Regions from separate parts of the Homo sapiens genome. Here regions 1, 2, 3, 5 and 6 are each linked to region 4. The links come from fine-mapping of genetic effects on gene expression. A gene starts in region 4. Each other region holds a variant in brackets. All regions are shown on one strand. Distances are from middle to middle.

Region 1 (4,086 bases), 260 kb after region 4:
CTCAATCTCTATGTTCCACTCTCTCTCACCCTGTGTTTGGAGTAGGGAAGAGAATGGATTTCACTGTCATAGGAGGAACAGCCTCCTCAGTGCTCTGACAATCAAGTAAAACAGTGCTCGAAAACAGACTCCTGGTCAGTGCTCTCCTTCAAGTATTACTAGCTGCTTTCCTGCTTTCTTGATTAGAATGGTTTTAATCTATTTTTCAATACCAACATCGGAGAGGTAAAAAGCAATGACTCCCCACAGCAGTATTTCTCAGTCTAGACAAGGAATCATGAGAAGAAAGGGCAATATCAGAATTTTAGACGGCCGTGGTGGAGGGTGGGCGTGGAACTCTTGCACTCCTTCTCAGACTATTTTTATTAGTTTATAGATAGCATAACTTCGGATGAAAAAAAAAAGGGGGAAGGTTTTCCAAGACCTATAACATGCCATGTACTTTAGAGACTTGCTCCTCGCAACAACTCTCTGCCATGGGTTAGCACTGCCCCATTTATAAGTGAAGAAACAAGAAACAAAGTATAAGAATTGAAAACTGTAGAAAGAAAAAAATGACAGAAGATTTATCCTATCATATCAGGTCTACATACCTGGTACTTCTAGTAGCAAAAAGTAAAGCCCAGCGGCATGAAGGCCATATTCTCGATACTGTACACTGACATTCTTCTTATGAACTATTTGAACAAAATGATAGAACAATGCCACCAGTGTACTATGGGAAACATTGTTCTCAATGAAGAAGGTCCAGATACTCTGTGGGGAGACCGCAAATCACAAAAGCCAGTCATTAGAGAAATGGAAACATTTCCTATTATTTGATTTTTGTAAGTTCTTGGTGCCTTACAAAAAGAGGAATAGAGTAGCCTGGCTCCTACTGCTAAATGTTTACCATCTTCAAAGGGACTGAAACAAAATATCAAAATTAAAGGTATATTATTCAAAATTACCAAGATAAATATGTATATAACATATTTAAATAATTAAACTTTCAAAAGAATTTTTTGTTAAGTTTGTAGCATATATACTTCAGAAATTATAGCTTAAAACTACACTAAGACTTTTGGGACACCATATATTAGTGATTATTCAGGAAAGTTATCCCTCTATTTATATTAAAAGGAACTCAAATTCCTTTACCAATAATTACTAACTGAGGAAATCAGAGCCCTTTATTTAAATGTTCTGCAGATTGCAGGCAATGGGAGCAGGAAATGAAAGAGATCTCGGAAATGGCCCAGGTAAAGGAGATAAACCCTAGAAAAGAAACCACAATTGTATTAATTCTATCTTCATTCCATGTCTTCTCCTACTAAACACATGAAGAAGAAATGGGTTATTTTAATAACCTAAACATAGCAGGAACTAAATATGGTTTATCCTTGAGTATCGTAACAAAAAAAGGCCCACAAAATTCAAGTGAGCAGAGCACTCTCCTTTCCTTAACTAAAAAACTTACGGGAGAAATCATCTCCACTGGGCACAATGGCTCATGCCTGTAATCCCAGCACTTTGAGAGGCCAGGGCAGGAGGACTGCTTGAGCCCAGGAGTTTGAGAACAGCCAGGGCAACAAAGCAAGACCTTGTCTCCACAAAAAATAAAAAATTAGCTGGGCGTGGTGGCACACACCTGTAGTCCCAGCTACTCAGGAGGGTGAGGTGGGAGGCTCATGTGAGCCCAATAAGTTGAGGCTGCAGTAAGCTTTGACTGTGCCACTGCATTCCAGCCTGGGTGACAGAGCAAGACCCTGGTCTCAAAAAAAAAAAAGGGGGGGGGGGGAAGAAATCATCTCCTAACTTTACAGTGTCACATCCTCATTCCTAATGCCACCTGCACCTCCACTTCACACACGAGGGTGATCGATCACCCTAAACCATCTGCTCACCAGGGCTCTGCATATGGGGTCACCTTGGCCCCATGTGATCCCATGGCTGCTGTCTAGTCTGGGCGTCAGTGACCCTGCACTCCCTACATGTGACTGCTCCTCTGCAGACCCCGTCCAATCAGCTCTCCATTTCTGTCCTGGCTGCTTCTCACCCTCGGTGATCTCATGCATCACTGTGCTTCAACCCATACCTCAATTTAAAGAACTCTCTTCTCTCTCCTGGTCTCACATTTCTACTACCTGTTAAACTTCCCAAGGATCTCCTGACAGAATCTCAAGTTCAGAAGTCTAAACAGAACTGTTTCTCCATTTGACCTTGCTCTTTTTCCCTTATTCCCCACCTTGGTTAACAATATCATCATCTTCCTAGTTTTGAAACCCTGGGGATCACTGACTTCTTTCTTTTTCTAATTCCCTATGCCCAGTCAGTTTAGCACTTCACACCATGTTTTTAAGATATCTCAAAAGGGCTTCCTAGTTCACAAGGCCCTATTAATTCTAATTCCAAAAATGTCCCTAGTTTTTAGTCTTCCTTTCCAGTTCCCAAAATTGTAACTCC[G/A]GATCATGCCATTATTACTCATAACACCTGGATCACCAATACAGTCTCCCAAGGGCTCTCCCTGCACACAATTTTTCCCACTTCAGTCCACCTACTGTCAAGAACGTCTGCTTAAAACAGATCTATTCATGTTACCTATCTATTGCCCACTGTAACCTCTTTCACACAGGCTGCTTGAGGATTAAATGAGTTAATACATGCAGGACGCTTAGAACAAAACCTCATACACACTCTACCAAACATGTTCAAACTCCACTGCTGAACCTCACGTAAAGCTACCCGTGACCTACCCTTACTCTACCTTACCATCCCGTTCCACCACACTTTTTCTGTATGCCTCTTGACACTTCCTGCGTGTTCCCATTGGGTGGCTCCTTCACTAGGACTGCCTTACAACCCAAGCTTCTGCTAGTCATCTGTGAAGATTCGCTGCTGGCCACTTTCTTTCTGGAACTTTCCCAACCCTACCATGCTCCCTTTTTCACACCCTATGCAACAAATCCGCACCTCTCTTGGAGCATTTTTCACAGTGTGGTTCGTAGAATATTTCCAGGCGCCCAAATGCACAGTGGCACTGAACTCTCCACCCCCTGCAACTGCATGTGGCTGCTAGACCTACTTTGGCTAGTGTTCAAATGTCCACTCTTCCTCCCTGAGGTCCCTGGGGAGGACCTCAACCTAGGGAGATTGTATCGTAATCCCCACTCTGTCAACTCAGGTACTTAAGGCAGTGCTTAGTGTTATGCTGAAGGAATGTTTAATTAGATGATTTAATTTTGTGATGTGAAACTTGGAAGTGAATTTTTTTTTGTTCATTTAAATGTTTCAGAGATGTTAATATCCAATTAGCTTTTGTTCTGTTTCCCAACCCTTTGGTTTTTTTTGAAAACTAACAACCTAAATATTAATAATAATTTATATTTCTATGCATTGGATAGAACTCAATATTTACAGGAACTGTTTGGACAAACCTGTTAATTCAACTAGTCATTCCTCAGTTTAATAATATCAGATTTTCTTTTTTTGTGAGACAGAGTCTTGCTCTGTCGCCCAGGCTGGAGTGCAGTGGCGTGATCTCGGCTCACTGTAACCTCCGCCTCCTGGGTTCAAGCAATTATCTGCCCCAGCCTCTCGAGTAGCTGGGATTACAGAAGCCCGCCACCACAACCGGCTAATTTTTGTATTTTTAGTAGAGATGGGGTTTCACCATCTTGGTCAGGCTGGTCTTGAACTCCTGACTTCGTGATCCACCCACCTCGGCCTCCCAAAGTACTGGGATTACAGGCATGAGCCACCATGCCTGGTCGCAGATTTTCTTAAAGTTAAGGTTAAGGCATGTCTGAATTGTTATTTGCATTTTCCTTGGTCTAGTTTTCTTGTTTTTGCCTTTATATTTTTCCTTTTTTTTTTTCCTTCTGAGATGGGGTTTTGCCATGTTGCCCAGGCTAGTCTCAAACTCCTGAGCTCAAGCAACTGGCCAGCCTCAGCCTCTCAAAGTGCTGGGATTACAGACGTAAGACACCACACCCGGCCTTATACTTTTCCTTTAATTTGCTATTGTAAAAAACAGTCGTGTCTTAAAAAAAAAAAATCAGACAAGTACCTTGAAGCTTTTGGAGGAAAGCTCTTAGGATATTCCAA
Region 2 (4,086 bases), 67 kb after region 4:
GACCCAAATTTGCAAATGGAGGACGTACAGGGGAAATCCTTGCAGCCAAGAGCACAGATCTTGGGCTCAGCACGTGCTAACCAGTGGGTCCAGGGAGGAAACAGAACGAGGCCAGCAGCCGAGGCCACCTGGATCTTTCCTTCCCCTTTCCTTTCTCCCGCTGCGTGTGTGTTGGGGGTGGTGGGGAAGGGGAATTTTGTGACCAAACCTACTAGTAAGACTCTTCCCTCCCCTTCACTAAGTGGCGGAGGCAGCCGGCTAGTCCCTCCTCTGAAGAGTGATCTTCTCCCTAAGAGAAGCCAACTGGACTCTAAAACATTGTCTTGGCCGGGCGTGGTGGCTCACGCCTGTAATCCCAGCACTTTGGGAGGCCGAGGTGGGCAGATCGCCTGAGGTCAGGAGTTTGAGACCAGCCTGACCAACATGGAGAAACCCCATCTCTACTAAAAATACAAAATTAGCCGGGTGTGGTGGTGCATGCTTATAATCCCAACTACTCAGGAGCCTAAGCCAGGAGAATGGCTTGAACCCGCAAGGCGGAGGTTGCAGTGAGCCGAGATTGCACCATTAAACTCCAGCCTTGGCAACAAGAGCAAAACTCCTCCTCAAAAAAGAAAAATAAATAAAAAACGAAACACTGTCTTCTCCGTTTTCGTTTTGCCCTCCGTATAGCGGCAGCTCAATCTATATGCTGATTTTTGTTGTCCACACATCAAATGGCAAGAGGCTGCAGCCCACAAATGCTAACTGTGCAGGAAGCTTCACAGGACAGAGTTTGTTTATTGTTCTGCAGCTGGTAGAGGCTGAAGGACATTGGAAGAACTGGGCTTCTTGGGGCTGAGATGGGTGCTTATAGGCCTTCAGCCCCTCCCACCAGGGAGGAACATACCTCTAGGGAGATGTGAAAATTGCAGTTTTATTTCTAATGATCTCCAGGGTAAAGGTCTTGGTTACCTGGCTCCCCACTCTGAGAGTTAAACCATCCTGATTGTCAGAGTTCCTGCTGCTAATGGAATGTTCCAGATGTATCTGCAGGGGAGAATTTTGACAGGCCTGAATCCCAGACCTGCTGCAGGATGCTCCTGAGAAAAATAACCTTTGCATTTCCCAATTTCACCACAAACACTGGAGAACGGGTAGGAAGTGCTGCATAAATTGTTTGCACCTGGTGAATAGGCCAGCTTGCGGCAAGAGTCCCTGGAAGGGTCATGTGGTTAGGCACGGTACCAGGCAGGAGAAAACAAACAAGAACACGAGAATGGAGAGGGAGCATCTCTGGGTGAGGTTGGCAGAATCCCAATCTCTGTGTGGGCCACCCCAGCTGTGGGTCCTCACAGGAGCTGGGGAACCTGGGAGCTGTGCTCTGTCTGGGAGCGCGCTGCGGCTCTGGCTCAGCGTCCTTGAGGATAAAGAAGGAACATGCCTAACTTTGCCCATTTGCATTTCATATCCATCATCTCGATTTTGCATTCTGGCAACTGTGCAAAATCTAATCCTCACTCTTCTTACTGGTCAAGTGTTCTTACTTCTCCTTTGAGGTACACAAAAGTTGAAAAAGAATTAGAACTTCTTTTAAGGCACATGCATGGTGTTGGGTTGGATGAACCCATCCAAGATCTAGCCCCAACCCCATGACACAGTCCACCCCCCCCTCCCTCAGATTGACCACACAAAAGCAGCTGGACCGGAGCATCTTTACTATTCCAGACTCAGCTCCCCTAAAAGTCCACTGCGTCCTGACTTCTGCTAAGATCCTGCACTCAAAACAAAGTACTGCCACCAAGGTCTCCTCAAAAGCCATTGGGCGTTTTCAAGGTATGTGTACCTGGGCACCTTCCCCCAAGGTGTAAGGTCAGTTACCAATAGGAAAACAGCCTCTTTAATTAAATATTTACTGTGTATATTGTGTACAATTTTAGACTACCTGTATGTGTGTGTGTGTGTGTGTGTGTGTGTGTGTGTGTGTGTGTGTGTGTGTATAGGTAAAATAATATTTGGTGATTTGCATCTTCATTTCACCCATCTTACTGTCCCTGGTGACAGCTGTGCGTGACTCACGCTGGCTCTTCTGACCCAGGTCTTCTTGCTTATCTTTGGAATATAGAAGAGAGGTGAAAAATGTGAATGCAGCCTCTTTTAAAACACATGCTCAGTGTGGCCTCTCCCAGGATGAGGCGTTGGTTGCTCCCATCCCAGGTCTAGTCCCGGCTCTGCTAACATTTCACAAACACTATCTCTTTGAGTCCCCATGAAGTAGGTAGTTTTGTCCTCATTGTACAGACTTGGAGAGGTTGAGCCGCTTGCCAGAGCTGGGGAGTGCCTACTTGGGGCTGAAATCTAGGTCCCCTTAACTAGAAAGCCTTAGCTTAGTATCTTGCAGTGGAGGAGCTCCTGACCCC[C/A]ACTTCTGATGGGGTGCATCGGAAGTGCTTTGAGTGGGGCTGGGCGCAGTTACTCACACCTGTAATCTCAGCACTTTGGGACGCCGAGGCAGGGGGGTCCCTGAGGTCAGGGGTTCGAGACCAGCCTGGCCAACATGGCAAAATCCCGTCTCTACTAAAAATACAAAAATTAGCTGGGCGTGGTGGTGCACGCCTCTAGTCCTAGCTACTCAGGAGGCTAAGGCATGAGAATTGCTTGAACCTGGGAGGCAGAAGTTGCAGTGAACCGAGATTGCACCACTGCACTCCAGCCTGGGCTACAGAGCGAGTCTTCGTCTCAAAAAAATAAATAAATAAAATAAGTGCTTCGCGTGTCCAGGGCCCCGACTCCGAGGGAAGACCCTCAACCTCTTCACATTACCACTGGACCATTAAAGGGTTAAAACATCTTTGATCTGGAGCCTCAGCTGCTCATCCTTCTGTTTTAAGGGCCTCTGAATCATTAGCCTTTCCAAGCAGCCTCCCTCTGCCGCCTGAGGCAGGTGAAGTGGGAGAGGGGAGCGGCCCGCCTGGGTCCTGAGTCAGCGCTGACTCCCCACGCTGTCCTCCACAGATTAATCACCTCCAATTACAGCTTCTGACTGGGCACGAGTCATTCCCAGCGGCGCCTCCTCGGGCCGACCCTCGCCCCCCTGCAAACAGGCTGCCTATCCGTCCAACATGCTTGCTGTACTTCCCAGAGCCCCAAAAAGGTACCCCGGCAGCAAATGACTCAAGGATGAGGACCCACCCTCTTCCCCCTCACCATCTGCTCTCAGCAACATGAGTCTTCTGGGGGCAAAAAGAAAAGAGGACATGAAACTCCTCCCTTCCAGCAGCCTACAGAGGCCTGTGCACCCTTCCATTAGCAGGTTGGATAATTCTTCGTGGTGTTTCTCCTCAGCAGTGACTAATAAAGCTTGTTCTCATTTCCACTAATCACACATCCTCATAGAGAAGGGTGACACACACTTGGCGTGGCTCTGTGACACCCCTTGGAAAGTGTTCCATGGCCCACCCAGCCTCTTTTCCTCGAGCCCCGCTCTGGCCTCCCTCACACCTGCCTCCCTTCTGCCCCTGCCAATGAAGCCGGGGCCCAGCTGCCTCGGTGGAATTCCTAAGCATCCTGCTCTTGGCTGCTGACCCGGGCACATGGGCACCCAAGGGCATTATGCCATCTCCCTCCTCAGCGGGTATCACACTGGGCTCCCTGCCCTGAGCTGCCAGCCAAGGGAAGGGCACACAGCCCCGTGGGGCACGAGCCGGGCCTCAGTGCCAGGGTACTGAGTGCATTGCTGTAGTATATGGCACAGTTTACCAAGAACTTTCCCGATTCTTGGGGCACGAGCCGGGCCTCAGTGCCAGGGCACTGAGTGCATTGCTGTAGTATATGGCACAGTTTACCAAGAACTTTCCCGACGTTGTTTCATTTGATCTTTACGTAATCAATAGTGCTCACTATACAATCATCCTCTATAGAACATGGTGTTCCCTAGAGGTAAGAAAGCTGAGGCCTGAAACATGCACGTAGCCCACCCACACTCAATTAGTAAGTGGCAATGCGTGACTATTATGCCATAACCCAGCTCTGGCATTAGGGTCAGAAGCCCTCCCCCACAAAAGTCCTCTCTGTATGAGCTTTAGAATTAGGCAGACTCATGGCTGAATG
Region 3 (4,086 bases), 79 kb after region 4:
GCAAGGAAAAGCAGCGTTTGGCAGGGTGGAAGGAAAGAGTGCTTATGCTGGTGCCCGAGAGATTGGTCTCTGGTAGAAGAAACATAGCCCCAGACTTGGAAGCCCGAATAGCCACGTGCTGTCTCCAAGACTCAGAGCAGAGACCCCTAAAGCTGAACCGGATTCACAAGAGGAGCAGAGGACCGCCTCCCGCAAACCCGGGAAGTCCTTGAGCCCTGCAGGTGCCGGCTTTCCCTGCTAATGAAGCCCATCTAGGCTGGAGCCCTCAGTCTGGGTGATGTCATCCTTTTGAGCTTCAGGCAGGCAAGGGGTGGAGCCAGGCTAGAGCTTTGCAGAGTTTGCACGCTCCACCCCTGACTGCTCTGACTTCTGGGCCCTGTCTACCCAGCTCCCTCTTGGCCACGGCTTCCTGGCCAGCCCTGCTGGAAACCGGGAGCTGCTGCAGAGCTGGAGGAGGGAGGGGGTCACCCAGATCACCTCTGCAGAGAGCAGGGCCTGGCCGGGGATGGGCTTCACAGAGGCCCTCTTCCACCCATCCATGCTTGTTCCTACGTTCACTTCAGGGAGCCCTGAGGTTTTGCGGGAACCCAGGGTCCTGGGACCCCAGCCTCAGCCTCTCCCCTCCACCTAGCATGTCCAGAAATGCTCATCTGCAGTACCAAGTACCAGGTGTCCCAGTGGAATTTCTTCTCTGAATACCACTCCGGGGAGGAATAAAACTGAGGGAGATAAGCACCACCCTGGGTTTGTTCGTGCTGAGCTAAAGGAATAAAGGCTCTGCACTGAATTGGAGCCTGTTCTAAGCCCCAAGGCCAGCCAGCCCTCCTGCAGAATGGTGCCTTCACCTCTCACATGCTCCTGCTGGACATAAGCCAGCGCTGTGCCAACTGCTGGCCTCCCTCTGATGCTGGCATTGGCCCCAGCTTCCTGCCTCCCCTCCTTCAGGGCTACCCTAACCCCTACCAGCCACCATGGCTTGAAGCATTGAGGTCTCTGGACTAGATAAAAATGTGGTCTTCCTCTGCCCATCATAGATGTGTAGGTGCTACTGGGGGTTTCCTCTGACAGCCCTATGCCTACCCAGGGTAACACAGGTGCAGGAAGCAGCCCCGGCTGGTCGGGGAAACTCACCACACCACAGGGCCTCTTGTTTGGACTCAGCTGCTTGGCACAGCCCCAGTGCCCAGGAGCAGAGAGGAGCTTTCCCAGGTGCAAGCCCTCAGAAAAGCCTGGGAGCCAAGCCTCTGTGTGCCCACGTGCCCAGGGCAGATGCCCCGCTCAGTGCCAAGGCCCTCTTAGCCCTCCCCAAGCCGTCGGCTCTGTAGCCATATGTCTGGGACAGACAAAAGTGAGGATGAGGGTGACACAGGCGGAGGAAAGGAGCGGGTGAGATTTCTACTGCGATTCATGAAGCCCTGGGCTAGGGCCTCAGCAAGACCGACCGGCACAGGCCTGATTCACAGCAGGAAAATGCTGCCCCGACTTTGCCAGCTCTTGACACACCCTGATAGCCTATAGCATCATGCATATTACACTTTGCAGTCTGCTTTCTTAGATGTTGAATTGTATTCCCACAACATTGCCATAATGGAGATAAGGCAGATAGTATTTTAATCCATTTTATGGATGAGGAAACTGAGGTAGGATTTGAACATCTATTTCTGGAAGGCCTCACAAGGCATGTGAAGGTATACAAAAATAAATGAGCAAAATAGCGTGTTATGAAGCCCAGGCTCCCAGAGGCCTGGTATCACCATCCTTCCCTACATCACACAGTTTCCCATGCTCAACTCAGAATGAAGAGACACTGCGATAGCTAGGAGCAGAGGCTCTCCCCCACGGACAGCTGCTTGAGGAAGGAGTGAGGAAAAGAGAGCAGGCAATTGAGTGATGAAGTGGACTGTCGCCTGGCCTGTGTGCCTGGGACCTGGGCATGGCCCGCATATGCAGACGGCGTGAAGGCTGTTGTTTCTGTGTGCACATGTGTACATGTCATGTAGGATGTGTATTCTGTTTTTAGGCCTGTACATACGTAGATCCATTGTGTGTGCTAGGAAAGGGCATTTCATATGTTCCAGCTAACTGTATCCAGTAACATGTATGGATGGCAAATGCGCGGACCCGAAGGATAGAAAAGGAAGACGAGGATGGTTATGTGGAAACGTGAGCAGGGTCTGTACATGTTTGCTGGATGACTGTAAGAGAAGAATTATACACACGGATTCAAGAATCCGCCTGTGAGGCCGGGCTCGGTGGCTCATGCCTGTAACCCCAGCACTTTGGGAAGCCAAGGCGGGCGGGTCACTTGAGGTCAGGAGTTTGAGACCAGCCGGCCAACGTGGCAAACCTCCATCTCTACTAAAAATACAAAAATTAGCCAGGTGTGGTGGCGCGCGCCTGTAATCCCAGTTACTCTAGAGGCTGAGGGAGGAGAATCTCTTGAACCCAGGAGGCGGAGGTTGCAGTGAGCTGAGATGGCGCCATTGCACTCCAGCCTGGGCGACAAGAG[C/A]GAAACTCCGTCTCAAAAAAAAAAAAAAGTGCACGTGAGCATAAGCTTGTGGGTGTGGGTGCACAAGCGTGGACTGTGTATAGCGATGGCTAAGTGTGTAAAGAGCTTGAGTACCAGCTGTAGAAGGGCATTTCCTGGGGGGGTCCCTGCTGAGACGCCAACTCAGGTGCTTCTGTGCCCTTCTTGCAGTGGGGTCCTTACAGGGCCGTCCCACGAGCCTGCTCAGAGCCAGGCAGCCCCGGCCAAGCCCGTGCCACAGTGCAGCAGCTCCTTCACCATCCACGCTCCTCCCAATTCCGCAGAGGACCCGAAACCTCAGTCCCGAGCAGATCAATTGCCGCTGATAACATTTAAATTCTGGCCTGGAGGTGCCGAGGCGGCCCTGGGAAAGAGGAAGGGAAAGGTGGCACGGATTTCAAGGGAGGGACTCGGAGTTAACAGATCTGATCCTTCCGAGCCTGCAGTCTCTAGCCGCGCGCCCCCGCCCCCACCCCCACCGCCAAGCCGAAAACCCAATCCTGGGCCCACCCATTTGCGTGGATGCCACAGCTCGGCCGGAAGGCTTCAGCGTGGGAGGGGGTGGGGGTGACACCAGGGCTGCCCCTTGAGAGCGACACCGGCCTGAACCCCGTCCTCCCCGCGCCCCCCAGCCCCGCCTCGCTGCAGACGGTTCGCCTTGTCCACTCTTCTCGACTCTTCTCGACTCTTCTCCACTCTTCTCGACTCTTCTCCACTCTTCTCGACTCTTCTCCACTCTCCCAACCAGAGGGCCCGGGAGGGGAGCGGGAGGAGGGGCGGTGCAGGGGCGGGTCTCCTCCGAGCAGGGCGGCCCTCAGCACCCCTTCCCGGACGTGCGCCCGGCACGCCCACACTCTCGCACGGAAAAGCCCCACTTCTCCTCAGCGTCTGGGTGCTGGGCCGTGCTGGGCCCTCCCCCGTGGAACTGGGATTTATGAAGCCGTAACCGGCCAGCGCCGCGGCAACCTCCGCTTCATCCTGGAGCCAGGCCGGCCTCCTGCGCCGCGGAGGGGAGGGCGGTGGGCGGGAGCTGGGCGGAGGCGTGGGGCCGGCGGAAGGCGGCGGGGAGCTCTTCCCGGGAAAGGCCAGCACCTGAGGCTGCACTTTCTCCCCGTTTCCCCTCAGGAAAAGACGCACCAGCAGCCTAGAATTCGAGGCACTGCAGAGCCGGAAGGGGCCTCGGCGCTGCTCCCTCCGCCCCCTCATTTCACAAACCGGAAACTGAGACCCAAAGCAAGGAAGGGACTTGGCCAAGGTCAGAGCTCACCTGGGACCACACGAAGATGATAACTTGCTAGGAGTTTTGCAAATGGGTTTGTCTACAGTTTGGTAGAATTAAAACATTGTTTTTAGTTCAGATTTGCAACAGTGGCCGGCTCCCTCTAATCCACAGTGGTGGAGCACTGTGATTGACATTCAGCTGCAAAGCTCTTGCTGGGAAACGCGGTGGCCGAGCCGTCAGCACAGGCGGCAGCTGCCTCCCACACTTAAGACAGGACTTCTAAAGCCACAGTCCCTCAAACGGCAGGCAGGTTTGTGAATGTTTCCGTGTTCTGAAC
Region 4 (4,086 bases):
CCAAGACCAGCAAGGTCACCCTCTGCTTCCAGACAGGGGTACATGTCCAGCCATTCCAGACAGAAGGACCCCTCTGCACCCTGAAAGAGGGCATAACCTTCATGCCAGGCAGCCTTCAATTTTGGGAAGCCCTTCCTTCTATCTTGCGATTCTGCGTGTTGCTGCAGTATAAACTCACATTCCTTTATTCTGGGCTGAAACTTGCAAAGAAGTCCATTGCCCACCCTGACTTAGGTTCGGAGGCTATTTCAGAGCCTTCCTTCAGCGTCTCTTTTCTATTCAAAGATCCCAGCTCATCCTTTTGTGCTTTCAGGGACAGTCCCATAGCAGGAACATACCAAAAACGGGAGGGGAGGAGGATGCGGGCATTGGAAGACGGCAAGGAAATGGGGGAGAGGATGAGGCTACAGGCAGACTGTCAAGCGCAGCCCGATGCACCTCACATCCACCCCCCGTTCCGTAAGCTTCCGCCATCACCCTTGCCTCAGTGTTCCCACCTGACAAATGAAGAGTTTTAAAACCGTCCGGACCAACATGTCAGTTAACAAAATCACCCTTCGCTTCGCCCTCTGCTCGTTCTGTTTTCAGACACCACCACCCCCCTCAGAAGCAGAGGCGACATATTCATTCCATTCCGGAAAGTTTCCTGAAGCACGCCCCCCTGCACAGACGAGTGACGAGGGGACCCCGTGAGAGGCGCCTCCAGCCCACCCGGCGCCCCATGCCGCTGGGAGAGGGTTCTCTGTCGGCGAGTCCTGCCTGCTGACTCCCACCCACAGCGGGTTCTCTCCCGCCGCCATCTCCTCCGGCTTGGTGAACTTGCCCGCAGCCGGGTCGTGTCTGCGCGCTGACAGCCCTGAGCTCACAGTCCTGGCACCCTCCAGGCTCCGCTCCCACTTCCATACAAGGGCCGAGAGCCGGGGGTGCCACCCAGAGGCTTGTAGGTCGCTCTGCCCATCTCCAAAGCAAAAGCCCGCGCGCTCACGCACGCATCACCCAACTCGGTGGCTCCCCCCTTGCGTCTCCCCCAGCTCAGACCCAGGAAAGCGGAAAGAGAAAATCCCCCCTCCGCTCGGATTCACAGCGTGGGGACCCCCCCTTCCCCGCCCCTCCCCTCCCCCGCCGCCGCCCCCAGCCAGCTCTGCCTCGCAGCCTGGGGAGGGCGGCGTGGGGCCCGCGCGGCTGCGGCGCGCTCCCGGGGAACTTTTGCCTGGCCGGGGCCCAGGTGCGGCTGAGAGGCGCGGGGGCCGGCGGGGTCCAGCCAAAAGCGGACACACCTCGAAGCTGGCCTCATCAATCCTCCTCTCACCGGGCGCCCCTGCTAGGGGGATCCGACCTCCAGCTGCCAAGATGTGTGGGCAGGAGGGGCGCGAGCGGAGCGATGGACGCCCGCAGGGCCGCGCGAACCCGGGGCCTTAGACGCGGGTGCCGCCAGTCCCAGGGATCCTCCGGGTCGCGCCTCCCTGCAGGCGCTCCTCGCGGCGCGGGGCTCTAGCGTGCTGCAGCCTGCCCGGAGACCGCAAACTCCCGCAGCCAGAGTTTCCCGCAGCTCTGGGAGGCGGCCGCCGGGCAGGAGGCGACGGGCTAGGCGCGCCGGTGTGCACCGTGGGGCCCGTGGTGGGCGAAGTCGACCCAGGTTCCACTGCGTCCTTTCCCCGAGTGCCCGGCAGCCCGTGGGCTCTGGCCCCTTCCCGCCCGCCCCTCCAGCCCACGGCCCCCAGGCCCTCCCCGGCAATGCTCCCGGGCCGCCTGGCCCGCGTCGGAGCCCAAGCCTCACCCGCGGGAAGGCGCGCCGGGGAGCTGGGGAACCGGGGGGCCAAGGAGCCGGGAAACCGAGGGGCCGGGCGCGAGGGGCCGAGGGCGCCGGGAGGGGCAGGGGAGGGACGCCGCACTTCAACTCACCTTCAGCCGCAAGCCCTCGGGTGCCGATCACACTTGCTATGAAAGTGGCCACATACCAAATCATAGTACTACCGCGCCAGCCCGGAGCCTCATCCTATCGCAAAGTGCTCCCGCGCCCGCACGCGCCTCGCGCCCGAGCGCCCGCCTCGCGCCCGCCTCGCGCCGCCTACGCCCCGCGCCGGTGCTCCTGCAGCCCGGGTGGCCAGCTCTCCATCCCTCCTAGGCTCCGCTCGGCTCGGCGCGCGCCTCCCCGGCCCCGGCGCAGCGGCACCTGCACTACTCGCCCGGGCGGAGCGCAGCCAGGTCCACGGTGAAGCCTAGCCGGGCCGGGCCTCCGGAACCGCCCCCGCCGCCCGCCTATTGGGCGCCGCCCGCAAGCCGGGGGTCCGATTGGCTCAGCCTTCCGCCCGTCGCGGCGCGAAGGAGGCGAGCCCATTTCAAGGTGCGTTGAAGTGTGGCGAGCACAGAGCCGCAGAATCATGCGCATTGCCGGGGAGAAGGTGGTATAGCGTCTCTGCCCGCTTCTCTCTCGGCTCACACTGCGTGGCAAGTTTCTGGTGAGGGAAATGGTAGCTTCTAACGGGACCCTGGCGGGTCTCAATTACCCCGGACAGGTCTGAGGGAAGTGGAGCCCCCGCCCACTCATGGAACCCAACATCCGGTTTCCATCCGGCAAAAAGCAGTTCCCGAGAGGACCATGCTGATTCTATGATGGGGAAACCCAGGAGCCGGCGGCCCGGGAGAGCCGGGGAACGTCCTTCGCCGGAGATCTTTTCAAAGAGGTCACGCGCCGCCTCCCCACCCCGTCTCCCTCCGCACCCAGACACGTCCCCAGAGCAGCGCACCACCCCCTCCAAACGTGATGCAGACCGGGGGATGACTAAAATGACCTCTCAAAGTCGCTAAGATTTAGAGTGAGTCATTGGCTCAGCTGCGAAGTGCCACAGACCCCTCAGGAACACTCGTGCACACACACTCCACCCCCAGTGCTGGTCACTGCTGCTCATCATTACTGAATCCCGACTCCAAGCAGTCAAAGTTGGGTCTTTTTCCCACTTCTCCTGATAAAGGCTGCTTCCTCACGCACATGGTTCCTCCCCTCTCCACCTTACTCGGAGCCCAGCCCCGACTCGGCCGCATGAAACCAAGATGGGTTTGGGGGAAGCTTTAGGAGTCTGGGATGGAGGAGACCCAGGGAAAGGGAAGGAGCTTCTCATCCTACAGAGGAATGTAAATAGGAAACTGGAAGGTCTTCGTATGTTCCAGTCTCCCTACCCTAGCCTGTCTGCTTCCCCTCCCCCAATACAGTTGTATTTGCAGAAGAAATAAATGAGTGTCATGGAAACATCTACTACAAACAATCACCTCACACCAGCGCTCAGAGGCTGCAGTGAAGATGTTTGTTCTTTCAAGGAGTGAAGGCAGTGGTAAGAATCACACCGCTCCCTGGGATGGGCTGTTGGCCAAGGAAGGAAGGCAGAGGGTCAGCGAGCGAGAGCTCAGGAATTTCATCCTCTCAAAGCACTCGTTAGCCACAAAGCCCTGGCTCCAGGACATGAAGCTCCCAAAACAACAAGAAGGAGACTTGCTTCTGGGAAAGCGTGCACACAGGTACACACACATGCACAAAAAGTGGCCTTGAACACCGGAGGTGGAGCATTCCCTGACACCGGAAGCCTCTTAGCTCACCGCCAGCTGGGAGGCAGAAAGAGGCCCCCAACAGAGCAGTCAGTGAGCACATGGATAAAGGTCGAGGGCCTGGATAGATCCAGAGAACCAGGACTGTTGAATAACCTTCTACCCTACCCACCCCTCCACCTGTGCAAACACACTCAAGATGCATAACTTGGGGCCATCTCTCCCTGAGCCATGATTTTGGTTCTCTTCTTGGGCAAAGATGCCTTTCTGGGGACAATGAAGTGAGCTGCTCCAGGTCTCATTGATGCAGTGATCTCCAGGTCTCATTGATGCAGTGATTTCCAGGTGGCATGACCCAGAATAACTCCACCCCCAACACACACACACACATATACATACACACACACTTACACACTTTCCCAGGGCCCCGGGACTGTAAAGACATATTGGAATCCATTTGCAGAATTGGTCATAACAGGATCCTTCTCCTCCCACAACCTCTAAGCAGCTAACTGTGGCCTAGAGAAAAGTGCCGGATCCACAAAG
Region 5 (4,086 bases), 34 kb before region 4:
CTGGGACTTCAGGGCGGCCACAGATGTGGGCACCAGTGGGTCCTCGTTCTCCTCGTCCGACTGGCGGAACTCGGGGTACATGTCCGTCTCCTCGGCGAAGGGGAAGCCCTCGATGCGCCTGCTCTTCAGCGAGGGCTCCATCTCGGCAGGGTCCATCACGAAGCGGCCGTCAGGGCCTCTGCTGATGAGCTCGATGGGCGTGGTGGCCTCTGCCTCGGCCTCTGCCTTGGCCACGCTGTACTTCTTGCTGCTGATGGCCCGCTTGGTCTTCTTGTACAGCGACAGCTCCTTCTCACGGGTGGGGCTCAGCATCCTCTTGGCCGCGGGCTGGCCCTGGTCGTCGGAGGATTCTGACGGCGCTCGGAGCGTGCGGATGCTCTCGGGGCTCACCTTGCCAGAGGACAAGCTGCAAGGAGGAGCAAGAGCCGGGAGGGGATGAGGTGGGGCAGTGTGCTGGCCAGGACTTCCTTTCCCTCTCTCGGCAACCACCCAGCACCCAGGATCCTCACGCTCAAGAAAACTGGCTGTGTATCGTGGTGTGAAATGCTTTGGCCAACTCTCCACCGTCTGGACGTGAATCCTCCTTTTTTTTTTAAAGACGGGGTCTTGCTATGTTGCCCAGACTGGTCTTGAACTCCTGGCCTCAAGCAATCCTCCTGCCTCAGCCTCCCAAAGTGCCAGGATTACAGGTGTGAGCCGCCGCGCCCGGCCCCCCCCATCATCCGTCTTTCCAGTGAACACCCGCCTCTTCACTTTTGTGCTGGCCTGCCCCCTCTCTGCTGTGCTCTAAGCACACCTCCAGCTTCATTCCCCTCTTTTCAAGACAAGCAAGCTCACTTTAATATCAACTTAAGCAACACATATTAAGGAGGCAAATCTGCTAGGGTGGGAAAACACTAAAGAAATACATTCCAAGGCTGAAGAGAAACTGATTACTGGCTAATTTGGATCATCTGCACTGCCACTCCCTCTACCAGCGTGGACAACTTACAATTAACACACAGGTCAATCAAGAAGAAATGGCTTAGAAACACTGAGATGGGGCTGGGCAAGTACAATTAACACACAGGTCAATCAAGAAGAAATGGCTTAGAAACACTAACATGGGGCTGGGTAAGGCGAGCGGTCTACCTATGCGCCCCCTGCCATGAACAGCACAATTCTCCCAGGATCTGAGACACTTACGGAGACTCCAGGCTCTTCCTGCAGTGGGTGATGGAGAGTGGAGGGTCTGGAAGGAAAGAGAAGGGGAGAGGCTGCTGAGGCCAAGCCAGCAACCACGCAGCACGCGCATCTGCAGAGGCTGACAGAGCCGGAGCACCACCGCACAGGGAAGGAGCTGCTCACAGTGGGCATCTTTGGCCCCTGCCTTCATGCTAGCTTGGGCCCCAGCAGCCTCTCCCCACCACCCCTGCTTCTTACCCCCACTTTCAAATCAAGTCTCACTGGCAGCTCTACCCACAAGATCTCAATGTCCCTATTTCCAAGGGGGGCCATGCTAAAAATGGTCCACCTCTCTTGATGGGGGGCATTTGAAACCGGGCCAGGGAGAGCAAGGGAAGGGGACAGACACCCACCTTTTTTGCGCTTGAGCTTACGCTTGCGCTGCTTGTTGACAAAGCAGGCAGCCAGGGTGCTGAACAGGATGGCAGCTGCCAAGAAGCAGATGGTAGCTACGATTCCCGCCAGCACAGGCCGCGCCAGCCCATCCTCGGTCAGGTCCGGCTGCGGGAAGATGTCTGCAGGGAGGGTGGGGAGCACTCATGAGCCCATCCTTCCCCGGGACCTCACCTGCTCCGACCTTCAGTCCCCAAGTGTTTCACCCTGCCTTTGTAGAACAGACAGTGTC[A/G]AGGCTCGGGCTCCAAGCTGAACTCTAGCACTGAAGAGGTTTGGATGGCGTCACGAAGAGGAAGAAGAGAGGAGAGTCTACAGAAGTCAATCTCTCCAAAGGGTGTAAAGAAGAAAACATCTATGCCTGTCCCCATGGGGATAATGACTTCAAGAGTAATCTATACTTATCTAGGGTTTTGCCTTCTGCAAAGCACCTTCATGCACGTTATCAGCTCTTCTCATGTTAACCCCATGAGCTACACAGAGCACACATACTGTTCTCATTCTCTAAATGAAAGAGCTCTGATCCACTGGGTTAGAGAGACCCGCTTACGTGGATATTGCCATCAGTGCCCAAACCAGAACGCAGCTGCCTGCTCCCAGTCTGGGATTTCCTGCCTCACACCAGTGTCTCTACAAAAGGAGAGCCCAGGTGTGAAGGCAACTTGAGGATAAAATACGACTGCAGGAAGAGGGATTATTACTACAAAATTCAGATCCTCTCCCCTTCTAGTACAGGCATGCAACGTCCTGAAGATTCGCATCCTGGTCATCTCAGGTACGGAAGTACCCTAGAGCTGGCAGGGACAGCAGAGATGGAGCCAAATCTCTCGTTTCACCATAAGGAGCTGAACGTCCTCCTTTCCTGCCCAAGTCTACAGAGCTCGTTATGACCGAGCCAAGACTAGACACCAGCCTACCATCTTATACTCATAGGAAAGTTGTGTCGGTAAGTGCCACTGCTTAGGTTCAGCAAAGGCAGAATCGATAGATTGTAACGTATTTGGCCAGAATTCATTGCTGCATCGATAATAATAATGGATAAAAATAATCCAGATGATGCTGATTGTCTGAGGGGAAAATGAAAGCTACAGCCTTTGGAAATGGGGGACCTAATACAGGGAATGCTGAGGCTGCTGCCTCCTCCTTCCCCTGTGTGGAAGTGTCTGACGAGGCACATTTCCTGCCAGGAGCTGGCATAGAGCTACTGAGCACAGAATGGTCAGGGGTGGGCCCACACAACACCCCTTCTTCAGCTCCAGCCTTGGATGCAAGCTCTCATCCCTGTTCCTCCAACTCTGAGTCTATTCCCCACAGAGAAGTCAAGAAAGACTGTGGGTTCTGCTACCTGTAGGACACAACCTTTTTTTTTTAAAGCCCATTGATGCCTAATGTATAAAGCAGAAATTGCACTCCACACCTGCCCCTGCTCTCGTGCTCCCTGCAGTGTGCCCACACCAGCACTTCCCCAACTCTACAAGTCCTGCTGCATGAGCTCCTCAGACGAGGTCACTGTCACCTGGTCCCAGGGGACTCTGGGTGAGCGGTGCCCAAGGAAATGATGCCATCACTTGCTTATAAGCAAGAGCCTTTTCCCATACCAAGGACACCCCTTCACTGGCGGAGGAACCTGCTATGTCTCAGGAACTATAGCTGGAGAGAAGATGTGTAGAAATGGGACCAGGGCCAAGAGAAAGAAAGATAAATGGAGAAAATGCTAGGGAATTGGCTTTATTTAGCCTTAAAAATCTAGAGAGAGGAAGGAAGGGAGGAAAACACCAAACAACAATTTTCCAAATAAAACCCACATAATTATAAAGAAGTCTATCACAAGCATTTGATAAACATGGTTGACCTGTTGTTTCCTCCGATTCACAGCCCCTCCCCGACAAGAGGAAACTGAAAATGTACAGCAAATAGCACTTCAATCAAGTCCTTTTTGACTACTATAATGAGAAGATTAGTTGAATTTCTTTCTGTGGCTGTCTTATACAAGTGTCAGAAACTCAGCTTCTGAGCTTCACGAAATAGCATGCATCATGGAAATATGGGTCTGGTGGGCTTAAGAAAGGCTATGACTCACGCAGCTGCAACCAGGCACTGCCTTAGTTTCCAATCCAGCTTCTCCTCGTGGAGTAGCCATTTCACAAAATGACCCCCATGCAGCTCTGGGGCTTATGTCCCTATAGTTGCAAGAGCACCCTCAACCCAAAATACCTGTGCTGGAGACGCCGGCGATGTTGCTGGGCTCGCTGATCAGATCCTGCATGACGGCCAGAACCCGGAACTCATACCACGTGTCCTGCAGCCCCAGGGACAATACCCAGTCAGCCGAGGGACCTGAGATGACCACTGTCCCCTCACACACTCATCCTGCACACAGCCTTGCAAAGGGCAGGGCACCCAAAGCACAGGAGGACTGCTAAGTGTCTAATGCTAAGCGATGGTAGCACTGGCCAATTGCTGTGGTGTAAA
Region 6 (4,086 bases), 28 kb before region 4:
CTAGGTTCAAGGGCAAGAAGAGGGCATGGCCCAGAGTGGATGCCCTGCCCAGCTTTGGCTGTGCCAATCCTCCTGATGCTGGGTCACCAACCACAGCTGGCATCTTTTCTACCAAAGGGGCCTTTAGGTGCAAGTCGTGCTCAGGACACTGGTCAGATGGATTACCAGCTGCATTGTGGGAGAATCCCACCCTGGTCACAACCCTAAGAACAAGCTCTGCCTTGGGAGAGTAAGGCTCTGGGGTATGGGGATAAGCGGCTCAACAGTGGCAGGATGAGGGAAGGAGCCCAGGACCTGGCTGCACACACCCCCAGGGACAGCTGAAGTAGGGCCTCGGGTAACCCACAGGGCTCATTCATCCAATCAGACTGGAGTCACCTGAGATGTCCAGGGTATAAGACCATAATGACCAGGGGTTTCCCCACAGTGGGGCCAGGATCCCTAAGGCCGTAAGGGTTGGAAGAAGGTCACGCTATGCATGGAGAGTAGGAAGACGGGCCGAGGGTGTTCCCTTGTTCCACAGGCTCCCAACTCCCAGCAAAGCCGGAGGGCTATGGGTGCAGTGCTGCCACGTCACCACAGGGAGGAGACATGGTCCTGTGGGACTGGCCCTCTCCTTGCAGCCCTGAGCTGTAACCTGGTGGGTGCCCTCCAGGATCCACTCCCGGGTCCCGGCTCACTACCGTGCACGCCCAGGAGGGTGAGATGAGGCAGCGGAAAGCAGTACAAAAAGAAGCCGGCGCCAAACGTCGGAGTCAGTGCACAGAGTTAGAGGCAGGCAGAAAGAAAGGAGACCTCCCCAACCTCGGCCCCGCCCTTCCCTGGCCCAGGCAACAAAGCAGCGAGGAGCCACGTGTGGAAAAGCAGTGCAGATGAGCAGCAGCGTGGAGCAGCAGCGTGAAGCAGCACCGCAAGCAGCAGGGGAGCCCCAATCTACACCTGAGCCCCCCATCGTATGCCCAGACCTCCCACCCAGGCATCTCCAAAGACAGCTTGACCACACCAAATGTCCCACCCTGGACACCTAGGCGCTGAGCAGCACCGGTCTCCCAGCAGCCACCGGGCAGGCTGGTTAGGGCCCCCACGCTGCTGCGGGAGGAACAGAGTAAGGGGACGGGAGGTGAGCTGCGGCAACTCCCATCATCCAGGTGCAGTTCTCCAATCAGAATCAAGACACCCAGGACACTCCGCCCGGGAAGCAGCCACCGAACCACCATGATGGGAGACAGAGCGGGTGCCCCTCTCAACTTCCCTCGCTGCTGAGAAGTGGATAAAGGGGTCTCCCTGAACCCCCTGAGCTGCCCCAGGTGCCTGCCTTTTCCCCCTCCCCTCGAGCTCCCCCTCCTCGAGTTGAGCCTGGCTAGAGAGACACCTGCAGGTGAGACAGGTCTAAAAGAAGGCACTGAGGGGCTCGCCCTCCCAGCTCAAGGTTGTCACCCCCGGGGCAGGGCAGGTGGCTGCCACTCTTACTCAAACAGGAGTGTAGGGAGGGGCAGCCCTTGGGGGTGGGAGGAGTCAGCTAGGCTTCCTTCTCCTCCCTTCCTGTGCCTCCTGCCCTCACCCCGCTTGGCACATTTTTGAGATCTGTATCTACCCTAAGGTTTGCGCAAAGACCTCATATGACTGCATCTGGCTAAACTGACAACAGAGGAATGAAAACAATCGAGAAACACATGGTCCTAGAGAGAAAATGCAGGGGCTGACCCCAAGGCTGGGAAGTGAGCATCACCTCTCCACACCAGTTTCTGTGGCCTCTGGGGAAAAGACAGAATAAAAACTAGACTACAGGAGGTGGGGAGGGTGAACACGTACAAATCATAGTGAGAAAGAACCAGTAAGACCTGGTGTTTGCCAGCACAACAGGATTACAAGCAACAATAATGTATCATACATTCTTAAA[C/T]CACTATGAGTATAATTGGATTGTTGGAACACAAAGGACAAATGTTTGAGGGGTGGATACCCCTTTACCCTGATGCGATTATTACACACTGCATGCCTATATCAAAATATCTCACGTACCCCATACCTACAAACGTATGTACCATGTACCCACAAAAATTACAAATACAAAAATACAAAAAAAATTAGTCTAAAAACTAGACTCTACACTTAAGGCTGGGCAATTTCACAAAGCCCTTGAAGGGCAGGAGTCTCTTCCAGGCTCCAGAGGAATCCAGAGGATGAAGCAGGACGCAAAACGAGGCAGCACGTGAGCAGGGAGAGGGCACAGAGAGGCCCAGACCCCTCAGGCCACAGGGACACAGCCATGCCCAGAGTCCCTTCAGACCCCTCCCGTCACCCACAAGGACCTCATCACTGTCTCAACCCACCTCAGTCTGTGCAGGGCTGGCAGGCCAGGAACTGCAGCCTCCTCCTACCTCCCCCCACCCGGGGTAGCCTGCAGGAAGACCGGGGAGGGGAGAAGCAGAGAGCAAAGCATGCCGGGGTGACTCACAGAGGTCCGTACCAAACTGAGAATGTCTGCTCGTAGCCTCCATCATAGCCTGGTTCCCAGGACACGTTGGCAGTTGTCATGGAGACCTGGACCCGGACACTGCCCGGGGCATGGGGGCTGGTGCCTGGAGATCAAGTGGAGACCTCTCAGACTGAAAAGAACTCAGCCACGTGGCTGGGTGCCCACCGTCTGGCTGTGGGGAACCTGAGAGGCTGAAGCGCATGGCAGCGGAGCACAATACTGCAAGTGAAGGGATGGGGGCGACGGGGATGCTCTCAGGCGCCGACTCCCCTGACCCTGCTTGTTAGTGGGGTTGGAGCAGGAAGCCTGTCCCACTGTGCGGTCTAGTCCAACTAGGAGATCACATAGCATCAGGAATGGGTCCAACAGAAACCAGAGCCCTCCTCGTCCTGGCCCAAATCCTGTGCTTCTCTGGTGAGCACAGAAACACTCTCTCCTAAGGCGGCAGGCACAGCCACAGAGCCCCTCCCGTAAGGTTCTCTGGCCTCAGAAGACAACTCCGTCCCACCCCAATGCTGGCATGTGGGCAGCACAGCACAGCAGTTAGGAGCCCCATCCTGGCTTCGATTCCCGGACCCACTACTTCTTAGCGATGTGACGCCGGAGAAAGCATTCGGGCCACGGCAACCTCTGCTTCGAGGAACCTACACTAGAGAAACCCCAGCTCGCACCTCCCGAGTTGTGAAGGACGAGCTGTGCAGACCACTTGGAACAGAACCTAAAACTGGTGGTAAAGGCTCCAAAAGCATTGGCTGTGACTGTGATTATAGCCGTCAGGACCCAGAAGGACAGGCTGAGAGGGCCCAGGCGAAGGTCCTGGGACACGCGCTTCGGGCAATCGGAAACGGGAACGCCCAGACACAGAACCCCAGAAACTTCCTCCTGCCCAGCCTCCGCACGCCAGGCCTGGCCTGCAGGTCTCAGCTCTGCCCTCATCTGAGATGCTGCACAGTCCCCGTCTCCCTCATTCCAGCCCTCCAGCTCTCCCTAAGGCCCTTAAACTCAAGGCTCTGCAGTCCCTGCCAGCCACACAGCCGCCTCTTTCCCTCAGGTGGGCTGCTGTGGACATCAGGCCTGTCCCCAGAAAGACCTCCCTGAGGACAGGAGCCACGCTGCCCTTCCCCGACAGAGCCCACGGGGGCAAAGGCTGCCGGTGCTGGACGCGGAGTTCAGGGCTGCACTGACTTAGGAAGGGAGCCCGCAGAGTGCAGCGGCCACCAGGGGACGCTCCCAGCGTCCAGCACCCCGCCCCCAGCCAGCCTGCTCTGTCCCCGCCGCCCGGCCCAGCCTTGCCGGCCACGTACCGATGACGGTGAGGTGGGTGCTGGCAGTGATGCTCGTGACCACGTTGGTGGCGACACATTCCCACTCCCCGTGGTCCTCCTTACTCAGGGCACGGAACTGCAGGCTCCCACTGGGCAGGGCACTGTGCTTGCTTCTGCTGGGCTTCCCTACCTTGGTGAACAAGGGGCAGGGAAGAGGGTGGGAACAGAAATGGGGGTTAGGAGAGAAGCCCGAAGCAGATGGGGAGGACGCGCCTGAGACCCCGGCCCGCCCACGCTGCCCTCCTCCCGAGTGCCTGCCGCTCTTCAGGGTCAGCTCACTGCTCG

Which allele goes with the higher level. Positions count from the first base shown, and alleles are read on the strand shown. Sizes are in standard deviations (SD) of each study's normalised expression. Not every link is listed here.
For the expression in sun-exposed skin of the gene that starts at base 2,180 in region 4, A is the low allele of the variant in region 1 and G is the other (small effect, 0.27 SD a copy in GTEx).

The links.
Region 1: its variant is fine-mapped to the expression of IGSF9B in sun-exposed skin (GTEx, PIP above 0.99).
Region 2: its variant is fine-mapped to the expression of IGSF9B in whole blood (INTERVAL, PIP 0.97).
Region 3: its variant is fine-mapped to the expression of IGSF9B in whole blood (INTERVAL, PIP above 0.99).
Region 5: its variant is fine-mapped to the expression of IGSF9B in whole blood (TOPMed, PIP above 0.99).
Region 6: its variant is fine-mapped to the expression of IGSF9B in sun-exposed skin (GTEx, PIP above 0.99).

The regions. Positions count from the first base shown.
Region 1 is chr11:134,216,343-134,220,428 of GRCh38, forward strand. NCAPD3 (non-SMC condensin II complex subunit D3) reads right to left here. Exons shown (of 35, transcript NM_015261.3): 3 at 594-756. Among named protein-coding and RNA genes, the nearest start is that of NCAPD3, 5.6 kb to the right of the region's middle. RefSeq lists a silencer at 1-179. The variant G/A (reference allele first, on the strand shown) is at 2,446.
Region 2 is chr11:134,021,634-134,025,719 of GRCh38, forward strand. The region is part of intron 1 of LINC02730 (long intergenic non-protein coding RNA 2730); the gene reads left to right. Among named protein-coding and RNA genes, the nearest start is that of LINC02731, 8.6 kb to the right of the region's middle. RefSeq lists an enhancer at 2,503-3,305. The variant C/A (reference allele first, on the strand shown) is at 2,400.
Region 3 is chr11:134,033,860-134,037,945 of GRCh38, forward strand. It overlaps LINC02731 (long intergenic non-protein coding RNA 2731), which reads left to right. Exons shown (of 3, transcript NR_027276.1): 2 at 3,653-3,782. Among named protein-coding and RNA genes, the nearest start is that of LINC02731, 3.6 kb to the left of the region's middle. RefSeq lists an enhancer at 2,999-3,970 and silencers at 3,115-3,324, 3,405-3,694. The variant C/A (reference allele first, on the strand shown) is at 2,510.
Region 4 is chr11:133,954,789-133,958,874 of GRCh38, forward strand. It overlaps IGSF9B (immunoglobulin superfamily member 9B), which reads right to left and starts at 2,180. Exons shown (of 20, transcript NM_001277285.4): 1 at 1,903-2,180. The coding sequence starts at 1,966. RefSeq lists a silencer at 2,009-2,358.
Region 5 is chr11:133,920,992-133,925,077 of GRCh38, forward strand. It overlaps IGSF9B (immunoglobulin superfamily member 9B), which reads right to left. Exons shown (of 20, transcript NM_001277285.4): 15 at 3,829-3,913; 16 at 1,578-1,739; 17 at 1,186-1,231; 18 at 1-406. Among named protein-coding and RNA genes, the nearest start is that of MIR4697, 24 kb to the left of the region's middle. The variant A/G (reference allele first, on the strand shown) is at 1,850.
Region 6 is chr11:133,927,204-133,931,289 of GRCh38, forward strand. It overlaps IGSF9B (immunoglobulin superfamily member 9B), which reads right to left. Exons shown (of 20, transcript NM_001277285.4): 11 at 3,781-3,931; 12 at 2,468-2,579. Among named protein-coding and RNA genes, the nearest start is that of IGSF9B, 28 kb to the right of the region's middle. RefSeq lists a silencer at 401-490 and enhancers at 3,291-3,963, 3,531-3,825, 3,611-3,905. The variant C/T (reference allele first, on the strand shown) is at 1,901.